Regions from separate parts of the Homo sapiens genome. Here region 2 is linked to region 1. Evidence: fine-mapped expression QTL. A gene starts in region 1. The other region holds a variant in brackets. All regions are shown on one strand. Distances are between the middles of the regions.

What was found.
Region 2: its variant is fine-mapped to the expression of CELSR1 in whole blood (INTERVAL, PIP above 0.99).

Annotation. Positions count from the first base shown.
Region 1 is chr22:46,532,761-46,541,077 of GRCh38, reverse strand. CELSR1 (cadherin EGF LAG seven-pass G-type receptor 1) reads left to right here and starts at 3,458. Exons shown (of 35, transcript NM_001378328.1): 1 at 3,458-7,451. The coding sequence starts at 3,908.
Region 2 is chr22:46,362,937-46,371,253 of GRCh38, reverse strand. It overlaps CELSR1 (cadherin EGF LAG seven-pass G-type receptor 1), which reads left to right. Exons shown (of 35, transcript NM_001378328.1): 26 at 1,450-1,562; 27 at 1,996-2,075; 28 at 3,399-3,525; 29 at 4,136-4,261; 30 at 4,774-4,868; 31 at 5,565-5,668; 32 at 5,874-6,023; 33 at 6,518-6,742; 34 at 7,003-7,258; 35 at 8,007-8,317. The coding sequence ends at 8,031. Among named protein-coding and RNA genes, the nearest start is that of TRMU, 31 kb to the right of the region's middle. RefSeq lists an enhancer at 3,289-3,348. The variant C/T (reference allele first, on the strand shown) is at 3,649.

The DNA.
Region 1 (8,317 bases):
ATCAGCTGAAAGCTGCAGCCCCTGCCTCTGCTCCAACACAGATGTGTGACCACATTCAATTCACATAATGAAGACAGAGAGGAGGCAGCCTTGAACTCATGCTAGGAAACAGCAACTGTGAAAATAGTAAATGCTATTACTGGCAGATCCATGCCTGAGCCAGACCCTGTGCCGACCGCTTCACACAGATTGTCTTGTTAATCCTTCAACAACGCTAGGAGTCTAGGACTATTGTGTCCAGTTAGAACAAGGAGTTAGGCCTTGGCGAAGGTCACACAACTAGTTAGTGGCAGAATTAAAGCTCAACCCCTCGAAGGTGCCAGTCATTCCAAACTCGTGATTTCTGATGCGGCCGGACCACCTGGCCGTCTCAGCACAAGCTGCGGCCTCCGTCTTGTTAGTCCCTCTCCCCTCCCCACTTACTTAAAATTGTGGATTCTAGGCCCGGCGCGGTGGCTCATGCCTGTAATCCCAGCACTTTGGGAGGCTGAGGTGGGTGGATCACCTGAGGTCAGGAGTTCCAGACCAGCCTGGTCAACATGGCGAAACCGTCTCTACTAAACATACACACATTAGTCAGGACTGGTGGTGTGTGCCTATAATCCCAGCTACTCTGGAGGCTGAGGCAGGAGAATTGCTTGAACCCAGGAGGTGGAGGTTGCATTGAGCTGAGATCGCGCCACTGTCCTCCAGCCTAGGTGAGAGAGCAAAACTCCGTCTCAAAAATAAATAAAGTAAAATAAAATAAAACTGTGGACTCTAAATAGGGTGTGGTGGCTCATACCTGTAATCCTAGCACTTTGAGAGGCTGAAGTGGGAGGATCTCTTGAGCCCAGAAGTTTGAGATCAACCTAGGCAACATAGCAAGACCCCATCTCTATTTAGCAATAAATAAAAATAGGCCAGGCACGGTGGCTCATGCCTGTAATCCCAGCACTTTGGGAGGCCGAGGTGGGCGGATCACGAGGTTGGGAGTTCGAGACCAGCCTGACCAACATGGAGAAACCCCGTCTCTACTGAAAATACAAAATTAGCCGGGCGTGAGGCGCACGCCTGTAATCCCAGCTACTAGGGAGGCTGAGGCAGAATTGCTTGAACCTGGAAGGCGGAGGTTGTGGTAAGCTGAGATCGTGCCATTGCACTCCAGCCTGGGCAACAACAGTGAAACTCTGTCTCAAAAAAACAAAACAAAACAAAACAAAACAAAACAAAAAAAAACAAAAACTGCCGACTCTAGATGCAGGCATAGGGAAAAGTACGCAAATCATGTGTTTGGAGTTCAAAGTGTGATCATGAAGCCGACACTCTGGTAACCCTCAGGTCCAGAAGGGGATGCCCCTCCTCCCCCAGAGCCCTCCTGAATGTGCCCATAATCACCTCCTTGTTTTTCTTCATCTTTCCCCTATTTGTGCACACCTCTAAACGTTATGGTGGAGTCGGGCTTGCTGTCGGTCTAAGCGTGAATGGAATGATCTTTTGTCTTTGCTGGACATCCTGTTAGTGAGATTCATCCATCCTCCCCTGTCCCTAGGTGTTGGGCAGTCCCTGTGGTTACCTCGCAGCCTGCAGGTGCCTTATTCCAGAAAAGCAGGCCCACACCTGAACCCACTGGCTGCAGCTGAGTTTTGTTTATTTAAACCCAACCCACTCTGCTTAAAGCCTTATTGCAAAACAGGCACTCCTGGGGTTCTCTGGTTTTTCCTCCTGCCTGGGTCCCCTTCAGGTCCGCCCAGTAGCCTTCCACTGGGAGGCTCCGGGCTCAGGGACCCGCCCTGCCTTCCGGCCCCAGAACTCCTGTCCTTTCATCCTTCCCGGAAAAATCCCAGTGGAAGGGTATATGGCGGGTGGGGAGGTCCTGGACCGCTCACATTAAGGAGACGGACTTTTCTCCTTCCTCCCCTCCCTCCACACACACATTTCCCAACAGGACTCTCCAGTGGAAACCTCGAATTAAAAGGTTCCAAAGCAACTCCACCTTTTAGATCAATATAACGTGTTCAAATCCTTGCTACTGGGAAGAAAATGCTCACATTGGGCTTCAGCACAAAGACACTGTTTCAGCAGCTTTGAGCGAAGTTGGCTGAGTATGCGTGTGACACACACACAGACACATCGCTCCGGGGGAGAAACCCTTCCGGTTCTCCACAGCCGCCCACGGTCCTCGTTGAGACTGGACTCATCTCAGCTCAGCTCAGAGATTTGGCTGCAGGATCCGACCCTCCCTTGCCAAAAAGACCCGTTCTAGGGGTGACTGCGCATTACTCCCACCCCCACCGCTCCGACCGGCCCCAGGAGAAGCCCTTCTAGGAGAGAAGAGGCGACCCCCACCTACCGTCCCCGACCACTGGGAGGCCTAAGGGCTGCACTGGACTCCGGCGCCCCGAGCGCCACCAAGGGAGTGCGCGCCCTTCCCAGCCGCTGGTGGCACAGTCCCAAAGCCCCGCCCATGCGGGGGGTCGCCAAGTCCTAAGCCTCCACCCCCTTTATCCCTGTGCCCCATCCGGAGGCAGGTGTACCCGTCACGCAAACCTAAAGCTGCCCCCGGCCCCCCGTGGTTCCCCGCAGGAGGCGGGGGTGTGTGTCACTTTTCTGAAAGCTCTAAGGTCTCTGCCCCCCGCCCCCCGCTGTCCTCCGTAGGAGGCTGGGCAGGGGCTGTGGCACAGCTCTAAATCCCTGCGGGTGCTTGCTTGCCCCAGGCAGCTTCCAGGACCCGCAGCCCCCCGCCTTCCCCGCAACCCGCTTCGGGAGGAGCCGGACGCTCGGGGATTCCGCGATGCGTCCGCGAACGCTCGGGTCGGGCCGCACGCGGGAGATGAGCGCGCCTCCGCCGTCCTCTCCAAATCCCTTATGTCAACCGGGGTTTTCTTCTTTCATTTAAAAGTTGCGCTTTAAACCAAGTGGGACGCAGATCCGGTAGCTGCCTATTGGGCTTCAAAGTCCAGGGAGTTTTAGTCGGGGTGAAGCATTTTAGCCTCCGTGCGTCTTGCTGTAAAATGGGTAACCCTCCTCGACAGCCTCCGCAGTCCTTAATGGGTGGGGGGGGGCTCCCCGGCCTCTCGGCCCCAGTCCTCCGCCCCCGGGTCCTACCCGCGCGGCACTCCTGGCGGCGGTCTCCGTGGATCTGTTCTGCCGGGGTGGGGAGCCAGGCTCTGAGCCGCGGCCCCGAGCCCGAGGTGCGGAGCCACCGCCCCACGGGTAGCGGCCACCGGGGGCCCCAGCCCCACCTTTCCCGGCCCTGTTGCCTCGGCCCCGCCCCACCGGGAGGCTGGGTGGGGAGGCCTCCGGGGAGTAGGGCCCCAGTCCCCGTCCCGGCCGCGCCCTCGCGTCTCCATAGCGATCCTCTCGGCGCGCACCTCCGAGCCGGCTCCCCCCGGGGCCGAACAATACGCCGCTGGGCCGGGGGCGGGGCGGGGCCGGGCCGGGGGCGGGGAGAGCGCGGGCGGAGTGGGCGCGGGCCAAGCGCACCGCCCAGGCAGCAGCCGGCCGCCGGGGTCTGCGCGGCGCGGAGCTGCCCAGCCCGCTCCGGGAACTCAGCCCCCGCCCCGCGCCGGGCCCGCCCCGCTTCCCACGCCCGTCCGGCCGAGCCCGCGCCGGAGCCACCTGGAGCCGCCTGGAGCCGCCGCCGCCGCCGCAGGTTGATGCGCGGCGCCCTCCCGGGACGCGCGGAGGAGCCATCTTGAAACCAACTTCGCAAACTTTCGCAAAGTGCTCTCGAAGTGGAAGCTGCGGGGGAGGCCGGGCGCGTGGTCCCCACAGTCCCCGCCAGGGCCCCCGGGGAGGCGGGACGCGGACCGCCCCGAGGGCCGGGCGCCCGGGAGCCGCTCCCCGGCCTCGCCGGGTGGATGCGGAGGCGCGCCGGGTGCATGGATTGTGTTCGGGCGCCCGGCTCGGGCTCGGGCTCCGGGCCATGGCGCCGCCGCCGCCGCCCGTGCTGCCCGTGCTGCTGCTCCTGGCCGCCGCCGCCGCCCTGCCGGCGATGGGGCTGCGAGCGGCCGCCTGGGAGCCGCGCGTACCCGGCGGGACCCGCGCCTTCGCCCTCCGGCCCGGCTGTACCTACGCGGTGGGCGCCGCTTGCACGCCCCGGGCGCCGCGGGAGCTGCTGGACGTGGGCCGCGATGGGCGGCTGGCAGGACGTCGGCGCGTCTCGGGCGCGGGGCGCCCGCTGCCGCTGCAAGTCCGCTTGGTGGCCCGCAGTGCCCCGACGGCGCTGAGCCGCCGCCTGCGGGCGCGCACGCACCTTCCCGGCTGCGGAGCCCGTGCCCGGCTCTGCGGAACCGGTGCCCGGCTCTGCGGGGCGCTCTGCTTCCCCGTCCCCGGCGGCTGCGCGGCCGCGCAGCATTCGGCGCTCGCAGCTCCGACCACCTTACCCGCCTGCCGCTGCCCGCCGCGCCCCAGGCCCCGCTGTCCCGGCCGTCCCATCTGCCTGCCGCCGGGCGGCTCGGTCCGCCTGCGTCTGCTGTGCGCCCTGCGGCGCGCGGCTGGCGCCGTCCGGGTGGGACTGGCGCTGGAGGCCGCCACCGCGGGGACGCCCTCCGCGTCGCCATCCCCATCGCCGCCCCTGCCGCCGAACTTGCCCGAAGCCCGGGCGGGGCCGGCGCGACGGGCCCGGCGGGGCACGAGCGGCAGAGGGAGCCTGAAGTTTCCGATGCCCAACTACCAGGTGGCGTTGTTTGAGAACGAACCGGCGGGCACCCTCATCCTCCAGCTGCACGCGCACTACACCATCGAGGGCGAGGAGGAGCGCGTGAGCTATTACATGGAGGGGCTGTTCGACGAGCGCTCCCGGGGCTACTTCCGAATCGACTCTGCCACGGGCGCCGTGAGCACGGACAGCGTACTGGACCGCGAGACCAAGGAGACGCACGTCCTCAGGGTGAAAGCCGTGGACTACAGTACGCCGCCGCGCTCGGCCACCACCTACATCACTGTCTTGGTCAAAGACACCAACGACCACAGCCCGGTCTTCGAGCAGTCGGAGTACCGCGAGCGCGTGCGGGAGAACCTGGAGGTGGGCTACGAGGTGCTGACCATCCGCGCCAGCGACCGCGACTCGCCCATCAACGCCAACTTGCGTTACCGCGTGTTGGGGGGCGCGTGGGACGTCTTCCAGCTCAACGAGAGCTCTGGCGTGGTGAGCACACGGGCGGTGCTGGACCGGGAGGAGGCGGCCGAGTACCAGCTCCTGGTGGAGGCCAACGACCAGGGGCGCAATCCGGGCCCGCTCAGTGCCACGGCCACCGTGTACATCGAGGTGGAGGACGAGAACGACAACTACCCCCAGTTCAGCGAGCAGAACTACGTGGTCCAGGTGCCCGAGGACGTGGGGCTCAACACGGCTGTGCTGCGAGTGCAGGCCACGGACCGGGACCAGGGCCAGAACGCGGCCATTCACTACAGCATCCTCAGCGGGAACGTGGCCGGCCAGTTCTACCTGCACTCGCTGAGCGGGATCCTGGATGTGATCAACCCCTTGGATTTCGAGGATGTCCAGAAATACTCGCTGAGCATTAAGGCCCAGGATGGGGGCCGGCCCCCGCTCATCAATTCTTCAGGGGTGGTGTCTGTGCAGGTGCTGGATGTCAACGACAACGAGCCTATCTTTGTGAGCAGCCCCTTCCAGGCCACGGTGCTGGAGAATGTGCCCCTGGGCTACCCCGTGGTGCACATTCAGGCGGTGGACGCGGACTCTGGAGAGAACGCCCGGCTGCACTATCGCCTGGTGGACACGGCCTCCACCTTTCTGGGGGGCGGCAGCGCTGGGCCTAAGAATCCTGCCCCCACCCCTGACTTCCCCTTCCAGATCCACAACAGCTCCGGTTGGATCACAGTGTGTGCCGAGCTGGACCGCGAGGAGGTGGAGCACTACAGCTTCGGGGTGGAGGCGGTGGACCACGGCTCGCCCCCCATGAGCTCCTCCACCAGCGTGTCCATCACGGTGCTGGACGTGAATGACAACGACCCGGTGTTCACGCAGCCCACCTACGAGCTTCGTCTGAATGAGGATGCGGCCGTGGGGAGCAGCGTGCTGACCCTGCAGGCCCGCGACCGTGACGCCAACAGTGTGATTACCTACCAGCTCACAGGCGGCAACACCCGGAACCGCTTTGCACTCAGCAGCCAGAGAGGGGGCGGCCTCATCACCCTGGCGCTACCTCTGGACTACAAGCAGGAGCAGCAGTACGTGCTGGCGGTGACAGCATCCGACGGCACACGGTCGCACACTGCGCATGTCCTAATCAACGTCACTGATGCCAACACCCACAGGCCTGTCTTTCAGAGCTCCCATTACACAGTGAGTGTCAGTGAGGACAGGCCTGTGGGCACCTCCATTGCTACCCTCAGTGCCAACGATGAGGACACAGGAGAGAATGCCCGCATCACCTACGTGATTCAGGACCCCGTGCCGCAGTTCCGCATTGACCCCGACAGTGGCACCATGTACACCATGATGGAGCTGGACTATGAGAACCAGGTCGCCTACACGCTGACCATCATGGCCCAGGACAACGGCATCCCGCAGAAATCAGACACCACCACCCTAGAGATCCTCATCCTCGATGCCAATGACAATGCACCCCAGTTCCTGTGGGATTTCTACCAGGGTTCCATCTTTGAGGATGCTCCACCCTCGACCAGCATCCTCCAGGTCTCTGCCACGGACCGGGACTCAGGTCCCAATGGGCGTCTGCTGTACACCTTCCAGGGTGGGGACGACGGCGATGGGGACTTCTACATCGAGCCCACGTCCGGTGTGATTCGCACCCAGCGCCGGCTGGACCGGGAGAATGTGGCCGTGTACAACCTTTGGGCTCTGGCTGTGGATCGGGGCAGTCCCACTCCCCTTAGCGCCTCGGTAGAAATCCAGGTGACCATCTTGGACATTAATGACAATGCCCCCATGTTTGAGAAGGACGAACTGGAGCTGTTTGTTGAGGAGAACAACCCAGTGGGGTCGGTGGTGGCAAAGATTCGTGCTAACGACCCTGATGAAGGCCCTAATGCCCAGATCATGTATCAGATTGTGGAAGGGGACATGCGGCATTTCTTCCAGCTGGACCTGCTCAACGGGGACCTGCGTGCCATGGTGGAGCTGGACTTTGAGGTCCGGCGGGAGTATGTGCTGGTGGTGCAGGCCACGTCGGCTCCGCTGGTGAGCCGAGCCACGGTGCACATCCTTCTCGTGGACCAGAATGACAACCCGCCTGTGCTGCCCGACTTCCAGATCCTCTTCAACAACTATGTCACCAACAAGTCCAACAGTTTCCCCACCGGCGTGATCGGCTGCATCCCGGCCCATGACCCCGACGTGTCAGACAGCCTCAACTACACCTTCGTGCAGGGCAACGAGCTGCGCCTGTTGCTGCTGGACCCCGCCACGGGCGAACTGCAGCTCAGCCGCGACCTGGACAACAACCGGCCGCTGGAGGCGCTCATGGAGGTGTCTGTGTCTGGTGAGTGGCCGTCGGGGTGGGAGGAGTAGCTCCTGATGGGCCTCCTGGAGAGCCTCAGGAACCCGCCAAGGGCTCCGCCTGGCATGCCGGGGCGCAATTGGGCCGGGCCCGGGCAACTCTGCAAGGATTTGTTGCCGCCGGTTGGATGCTGGGGGTGGGCGCCCGGCCTAGGCCCAGCGAGGGGGAGAGGCACCGCGCCGCTTCCGTCAGCATTTTCCTGGGAGCAGGCCTGCGGTTCTCCCAAGTTCAAGACCGGGGATCAGCGCCTTCCTCAGCAGGCTAGTGGCTCCTGAGTACAGCTATTAAAAAGTGGCCTCCAGGTGATCTGGGTCACAGGATTTGCTTGGAGATGCTCTTTCGTCAGCCAGCCACAGGGCTCTCTGGGAAGATCAGAGGTCACTGCCCCTTCCCAGTGCCAATTAATTCCAGGGTGGGACCGTTGGAATTGTCAGATGGGTCCCTGAGTCACCCTATAATGCAGCCGGTGTTCCCTTGGTCTGGCTTTTCTGTCTCCTGCAGATAATAACAGTCGGGCTTAGGTGTGTAGGGCTTTGTGCAAGCTCTTTGAAAAGCATAGCCTCATTTGATCTTGGCTTCTGCTCCTGGATGCGGGCTTGTAATTTGGGTGCTGTTGAAGAGGCCTGCCCAGTTAGTGGTGGAGCCAGTGTGGGCACCTCGCTCACCTGCTCTGGGGCTGGAGGTGAACAGGAGGGAGAGGAAACCTTGGCTCAGCAGTCAGAAGTTTGGCCGGTCCTCTATGCCTCTGACCCTGTGTGCCGGGGCTGGTCTGCGGTGCTGGGGAGGGGGACTAATAGAAAGTGTTGGAATTGGGAGACACAGAAGAGAGAGAAGAACTTCGAGGGGCC
Region 2 (8,317 bases), 170 kb after region 1:
GACCAGCCTCCAACCAGGCAGGCTCCTGGCTAGGGTGTTCTGATGTGACTCATCTCCCTTACTCTAAGGGACCCTGAAGAACCTTTTTCACCTCCACCCAGGGCCACTGAGGTGGGGGCAGGTTGGGCGGGGTGGCAGCCGCCACTTCCTGATGTGACAGGGAGGCGATACCTTGCCTAGATTAGGTGCTTACTGTGAGAGACGCTGAGATGAAGAACATGGCCTAGAAAGGGGCTCGTATGGCTTTGTCGAAAAGCCACCTCGATGTCCAGGCGGAGCAGGTCTCTGCGATGCCTCTGCCCTTTGGACTCTAAATCCAGATAGTTCACGTTTCCTACTTGCTTTAAAAACAGGTTTCGGTTTGTTTTGTTTAACACTTAGGTCTGTCTTGTACAAGATCTTAAAATAACTCCCGGGGAGCCTCAGACTGAGCTGCAGGCACTGGTCACTGGCTGCTGCCTCCCCCGGCCATCCAGGGCTTCCCTGACTGTCCTCAGTGGTCCTGGTTAACTGGCTCCTCCAGAGGGCAGTGGGAAGTGCTGGAGGGTGTTAAACAGGAGGGAGCTGGGATCTCTTCAATATTTAAATAAGGAGAGTGGGGAGGAGCATAGCCTAGGCCAGGGTGGGGCAAGGGGCACAGAAAGACCAGGTCTCACCTGCTGGTTGCTCCTGTCCCAAGTGTCACCTTGATGCTCTGCATGGACAGGCGGATCTGGTTTGTCACACTGTGGCTGGGAGTGACAACTGTGCTTCAGAGCATTTCTTCCTCTATCTAAACAAGCAGCTCGTATAGCAGGCTCGGTGGTGAGGCAGTTTCGGGGGTGTGTGTGTGGTGTGCACGTGTGTATGGTGTGTGCCTCTGTGGTGTGTGTGTATATCTGTGATGCGTGTCTGCACACGGTATGTGTGTCTGCATGCATGTGTATAGGGTATGTACATGTGTATGGCATGTGCACGTGGTTGGATGTGGTATGGGGGTATATGCGTTCCTCACCCGCTCACATATGGCCCTGTAGGTGACGCCGTCCTCCATCTGTTTTGGAGCCTCATCCCTTGCACCTTGGGTCCATCATGGCCTCCTGACCTCTACATGGCCCAGCTGGCAGGGTCCTCCCAAGCACCGTCTGCCTTCACGATCCCTCCTGCACCATCTCACTGCCACCCTCCAGGGTCTCTGGTCTTCCTCAGCAGCCCCCGGCCCAGATACGCCCCCTGCCTCATGGGGCCAATCCAGGAGCAGCTCCTGCCACCTGGGCCAGTGAGCCTGAGACCCTACACGGAGAGACTGTGCTTGGAGGGGCCCTGGGCTGGCTCCCTGGACTCCTTGCTCCTTCCTCTGAGAAGGGAGATGCTGAGTCCCCCATTTCACCCCACCCTGGCTGGTCCTTGGCATGGGGTGGCCACTGGGCACGTGGCCCTCACCCTTCCCTTCCTCCCCGCTGTGTTCAGGACTGGCGGTCGGCCTGGACCCCCAGGGCTACGGGAACCCCGACTTCTGCTGGCTGTCGCTTCAAGACACCCTGATTTGGAGCTTTGCGGGGCCCATCGGAGCTGTTATAATCGTGAGTGTGGGGCCTTCACGGGAGTCCGGGTGCCCCAAACATGCATGAGCTGGAAGGGCTGTTCTGGGTTGGCTGGGGCCACCAACTCCTCTGAGCAGCCGACGGGGGGCAGGAAGGGCCACCTTGTAACAGTCAGCAAAGCCGCCAGGGCCCTCCCGGACCTCACCCTCTGATCGTGGATTCAGGTCTCGCGTCGTGTCCGCATGAGACCATCTGCGTCCAGCACCCAGGAGGGTCCCGCACAGGCAGGCTGGGTGTGGTGGGCGCTGTGGGGCAGTGGGTGGACAGGTGTGCTTCGCCCCACAGGCCAGGGTTCGGGTCCTCCTCACCCAGCCACCCCTCCCTGACAGGGCGAAGGGCCTCAGGCGCTTTTGGCAGTTGGAGGTCTGCAGTGACGAGAGAGAAGACATTGATCGGCTTGTTTTGTTTTCAGATCAACACAGTCACTTCTGTCCTATCTGCAAAGGTTTCCTGCCAAAGAAAGCACCATTATTATGGGAAAAAAGGGATCGTGTAAGTGGGGCTGAACCTGACCGGCCAGCCATGTCGGCTGGGCCCTGAGACCCCGACGTCCAGTCTCTGCGGGGTGGGGCCCCATGAGAGCGTGTAGGCCTCATGGAGGAGGGCTGGGGGCAGCCTGGGTGAGCCCCAGGGCTCCAGAGAGGTTTGCCACGTTGCACCTGCAGGGGCTGGGGGAGGTTAGCTGAGGGGAGGGGGCTGGAGGAGGTTAGCTGAAGGGAGGGGGCTGGCAGCCAGTCCTGGGCCTCAGTCCCTCCCGCCTGGCACAGAAGTATTGGGCTGTCTGGAATCCCCAGAGTGGAGATGGGTGGGGTGGGGGAGATGAAACTTTCTGGTGGGTGGTGAGGGTGTTGCTGAGGCCACTGGAGGGGAGGAGACCCCCCCACCCCACTGTCAGAGGGTGCAGTGGAACAGGGGCCCAGCACAGAGGGAACCTCCAGTGTTCTAGGGAGGAGAGGGGACCTTCGAGGCCCCAAAGGAGCAGGTGGCACCGCGGGAGGACTCAGCACAGCGTCCAGGAGCCACGACAGGGTCAGGAGGGGTTGACGGGGGCATCTGTCAGACAACAAGGCCAGCCCCTGGTGACCTGGTAGCTGAGATGGGACTGAGCCAGGGATGGGCGAAGGGATAATGCTTGCGCAGGGGCTGGGTGTCAGGAGGAGTGTGAGGCTCCCGGCCCGGGAGGAGAGAGCCGAGTCTGAAGGGGGGTAGGGCAGAGAGGGAGAGGCAGTGAGTGGCCTGGAAGGCCGGATATGGGGGTGCACGGGGGGTCTGGGGCCTTGTCAGTTCCTCGTCTTCAGTGCCATCCACGACCTGTGGACCTTGCGGGCTCTGTCACCCGGATTCACTCCATCCCCTCTGAACCCTGGGAGGGGATGCGCCTTTGTCTTCCCCTTGTACACATGGGGAGACTGAGGCAGAGCTCAGGAAGCTGATTGCAGGGTCACAGCTCAAGGGCAGGTCCTGGGCTCTTCCTCTTGCCTCTCCACAGGGTATCTCACGGGAGCTAGTGCAGCCATGGGCATGGCTCAGGCCCCTTGGCCTGGTGTAGTCCTCACAGCTCCTGTTTTCTCATTTGCTTCCTAATGTATTCCACCACCACCCCCACTAACACGAGCTCTGTCTGGTTCCCGGATGAGTCCGTACCTGGCTACGAGGGGAGGAAGGGAGCAAGGTGGATGATGGCTGGGTGGACAGGTGGACGGACAGATAGATGGGCGGACGGGCAGGCAGGTGGACAGGTGGACGTGCAGAGAGGGAGGGAGGAAGGGAGCAGGTGGTGGCGATGGGCACAGGCCTGATCCTGCCCTCCCGCAGCTCCCTGCTGAGGACCGCATTCCTCCTGCTGCTGCTCATCAGCGCCACCTGGCTGCTGGGGCTGCTGGCTGTGAACCGCGATGCACTGAGCTTTCACTACCTCTTCGCCATCTTCAGCGGCTTACAGGTAGGTGACGGCCGAGTTGCCCGCGGGACCCCTGCCTGGCCGCCGTGACACCATCGCTGTGATGCGAAGCAGTGGAGGCCTCTGCGGTCCCAAACCAGCCCTGCCTGGGTCCCGCGTGGGGGC[C/T]TCCTGTGGCTGTGAGGACTCAGTCCCTTGTGCAGCCGGCACGGGGGCTGGTGCCTCCTCCCCACTGTGTCTGGGGACGATGACCCTAGTGCCAGGCCAGCACAAGTCCACTTGTGTCTCCAGGGAACAGAAGTGGCCATTTCTAGTCATACCAAGGGCCACACAGCAAGTGGACTTACGACACAGTGGGGACCCCAGAGGGGCCCCAAGGACTGTGGAAGGAGTGCCCAGAAGACTGGCCTGAGCCGGGGCCCTCACTGCCTCCAGCACACCGGGGGTCTGGCCCAGGCATCTCAGTTTCTGAGCTCCCCCACCTGGCCTCCAGATAGCAGCAGTCCCTGAGGAGGGGAGGCCTGGCCGTGTCCTGGGCCGTGTGGCCGGACATGTTGTGTGCACTCAAGGCTGTATGCGCATCTGTGCTGGGGCGCCTAAGGGCAGGTGCCTAGGGAGGCAGCAGCAGGTGCTGACCCCACCTTCCTCCCTCCAGGGCCCCTTCGTCCTCCTTTTCCACTGCGTGCTCAACCAGGAGGTCCGGAAGCACCTGAAGGGCGTGCTCGGCGGGAGGAAGCTGCACCTGGAGGACTCCGCCACCACCAGGGCCACCCTGCTGACGGTAGGAGGCGCCGGGGACACCGCGGGACTGGGGGCTGGGCGGCATCTCGAGGGGCGGGGGAGGGTGATCGAGCCTCAGCCCCAGTCCTGCGGCCCGTATGCCCCTCACGGTGGGGATGGCAGAGCCGCCCGCGGTGCACGGTGTGGCTGCCGCGTCAGAACCAGAAAGTGACAGAATCGGCCAGATGGGGCCTGGGTCGCATCCTAACCCTGCTCTTCCAGGCCTTAGAAAGAGAGGGTCAGGACCACCGAGGATCCTGACCAGAAGCAGTGGCCGTAGGGAGGGCGGCAGCCCCTGACCACAGCGCGGGCCAGGATGTGCTTCCCTCAGCTGCCAGGAGGCTCTCGTTTGCAGTGAGGGTTGACTGCTTGGGGCCAGCTCCTCCTGTGTGCCAGGCAGGGGCCCAGCCAGGGTGTGGGTGTGGGGGGCTTGCCGTGGGGACAGAGTCATTCCCCGTGGTGGTCATGTGGTGGCCACCACTTGGCAGTGACCAGCCCCTCCCCTCCCTTCAGCGCTCCCTCAACTGCAACACCACCTTCGGTGACGGGCCTGACATGCTGCGCACAGACTTGGGCGAGTCCACCGCCTCGCTGGACAGCATCGTCAGGTCAGGCCGCAGCTCCGGGTTCGGGGAGGTGGCTCTCGAACTCCCTCAGGTTTTGCCCCTGCCACCCCAACCTGTGTCCTGCCATTCAACCAACATCACCTTCCACCCCCAACTTTCCACCCGCACCTTCTTCCCACCCGCAACTTCCCTCCCTGCCCCGCACCTTCCCTCCCCGCCTCGCACCTTCCCTTCCCCTGCACCTTCCCCCAACAACCTTTCCCCCACCAACTTCCCCCAACCAACCTTTTCCCGTGCAACCTTCCCCCCCGCACCTTCCCCGCACTGCACCTTCCCCCCGCAGCCTTCCCCCCTCCACCTTCCCCCTCCACCTTTCCCCTGACAACCTTTCCCCCCAACCTTTCCCCCAGCACCTTCCCCCCAACCTTTCCCCCCACCACCTTCCCCCCCAGCCTTTCCCCCCACCACCTTTCCCCCACCCAGCCTTTCCCCCCACCACCTTCCCCCACCCAACCTTTCCCCCCACCACCTTCCCCCACCCAACCTTTCCACCCACCACCTTCCCCCCACCCAACCTTTCCCCCCACCACCTTTCCCCCACATACTCGGGAGGCTGTTTTGTCTGTGCTGTTGTTGGGAACACAGAAGGGGTAGGGGCAGAGAATCTTCCAGAGAACTTTCCAGCACCTCCTGTTCCCTGACGGATGATACTGAGCCCACCCTCCCTGGCCTCTCTAGGGATGAAGGGATCCAGAAGCTCGGCGTGTCCTCTGGGCTGGTGAGGGGCAGCCACGGAGAGCCAGACGCGTCCCTCATGCCCAGGAGCTGCAAGGATCCCCCTGGTATGGCTTCCCTGGAGGGGGAGGACCCCGTGGGTTGTTTTTCCCACGTCCCTTCGGTCACTGGACAGACTGCCCCTGAAGAAGCACTAGCAGCCTCGCCATGCTCAGCGTCAGCATGCCAGGGGCCCAGTGGCTCTGCTTGGCCCTCGGTGGGACTCCCTCACCTCCCAGGGCCTGAGCCTCCCTGTCCCCCGCGCATCCACAGGCCACGATTCCGACTCAGATAGCGAGCTGTCCCTGGATGAGCAGAGCAGCTCTTACGCCTCCTCACACTCGTCAGACAGCGAGGACGATGGGGTGGGAGCTGAGGAAAAATGGGACCCGGCCAGGGGCGCCGTCCACAGCACCCCCAAAGGTGAGTGTGTGGGGCACATTGGGCCAGGCTGGGCTGTGGACAGCGGGCTCGGGGCAGGCCTTGGCTATGGCTGGGTCCCTTCCTCCCAGGATATGCCCAGCAGCACTGCAGCCACATGAAAGGACAGCCTGGGGTGGGGGGACTCTGGTTGGGCTCCCCCACAGCCTCTGGAGGGCTCCTCCAGGCCAACCCCCTGAGCGGAGGCAGGAACTCTCAGGGGGGTCTCTGTGGACTGTCACCGCAAGGTCCAGGTGAGGCTGCCAGTGGGGGATTAGCCTGTATAGTTACTGGTACAGATGCGGCGGGGGCTCCCAACAAGGGCCCTGCTGCCAGGACTCGCCCTCCTGGGCCTCAGTTTCCCCACCTTTAGGGTTCAGCCCTACCAGGCCTGCAGGTTGGGGAGAGGTGGGTCAGAGCCACCAGACCCATGGCTCTCAAGGGAGCAGCTCGAGTGGCAGTGCCGCTGCCTGCTGAGCACCGCTCTCGTGCCTCAGGGGACGCTGTGGCCAACCACGTTCCGGCCGGCTGGCCCGACCAGAGCCTGGCTGAGAGTGACAGTGAGGACCCCAGCGGCAAGCCCCGCCTGAAGGTGGAGACCAAGGTCAGCGTGGAGCTGCACCGCGAGGAGCAGGGCAGTCACCGTGGAGAGTACCCCCCGGACCAGGAGAGCGGGGGCGCAGCCAGGCTTGCTAGCAGCCAGCCCCCAGAGCAGAGGAAAGGTGCCTGGGGAGGCCGGGGCTGCAGTGAAAGGCTGGAGGACCCAGAAGGGCCAGTCCCTGGTCTGGAGGTGGGAGTGGGGCTGGGGCTGGTGGGGCAAGTCAGGGCCTGGGCAGAACAGACGTGGCCTCCTGGCCTAGCCCTGGGACCCGGGGAACCAGGAGGAAGGACAGGGGCTGAGGCTGGCTCAGCTGCACACGGCCCAGCAGCTGCCCCCGGCAGCATCACCCGGACTTGACCTTGCCGTGTCTCCTCCTCCCAGGCATCTTGAAAAATAAAGTCACCTACCCGCCGCCGCTGACGCTGACGGAGCAGACGCTGAAGGGCCGGCTCCGGGAGAAGCTGGCCGACTGTGAGCAGAGCCCCACATCCTCGCGCACGTCTTCCCTGGGCTCTGGCGGCCCCGACTGCGCCATCACAGTCAAGAGCCCTGGGAGGGAGCCGGGGCGTGACCACCTCAACGGGGTGGCCATGAATGTGCGCACTGGGAGCGCCCAGGCCGATGGCTCCGACTCTGAGTGAGTAGCCTGGGCCTCCAGGGCGGGGATCACCCACTTCCCCCTTGTCCTGAGTCAGGAGAGAGAGGGGGCAGTGGTCAGGGACCTGACACCCACCTCACCTGGAGCCCTGAGTGCAGAGGAAGCCCAGGCGGGGATGGGGGAGGGGGGAGGCGCTGCAGCTGAGGTCAGGAGGATACCCCGGAGATGGGCAGACCCCCTATCCTGGGGACACGTCTCAGGCCTCTGGGACTCTGAAGCCCTGGCCAGCCCCAAAATGCTAGGACCTAAGGTGCTGGGCTCTGCGTTTGATCAGCATTGTCTCCGCCTGGGACCACTGCCACCCACCTTGCAGTTGAGGATACTGAGGGTCCCGGAATGCCAGGGGTGAAGGGGGCGGGGTGGAGCTGGGGTCCTGGCCCCAGACCTCTCCCTGTCGCCCCTCCCTCCCTCCAAACTCACAAGGGAGAAGCCAGGTCTTCAGAATGCCCCTTCCAAAAGTCACTGTAGAGATGGCCGGTTTCTAACGTGGATTCCTTGCGCTCTTCTGAAAGACCAGCAACACAGAGGCCCACAGGCTGGTCCTGGTCCCCTCTCCTGCCTCCCAAGGGCAGCCTCATCCAACATGAGCTTGCCCTCCCTGGAGCCCCCAGACGCCCCCTCTACCCTGATGGGGTGATCCTGCCCCCCCGTGTGACAACCTTGGGCCCCACCAAGCCGCTACCCTCACTGACCCTTCACCTGCTTGCTGGCTTCTTCCCACGCGCAGAGGCAGTAATGAAACTTCAATTTGAACCATCAGTAATGAAACTTCAATTTGAACCATCAGGAAACCGTGAGGCAAGCCCGTCACCCCACACAGGCTGCGGCATCACCCTCAGACCTTGGAGCCCAAGGGGCCACTGCCCTTGAAGTGGAGTGGGCCCAGAGTGTGGCGGTCCCCATGGTGGCAGCCCCCCGACTGATCATCCAGACACAAAGGTCTTGGTTCTCCCAGGAGCTCAGGGCCTGTCAGACCTGGTGACAAGTGCCAAAGGCCACAGGCATGAGGGAGGCGTGGACCACTGGGCCAGCACCGCT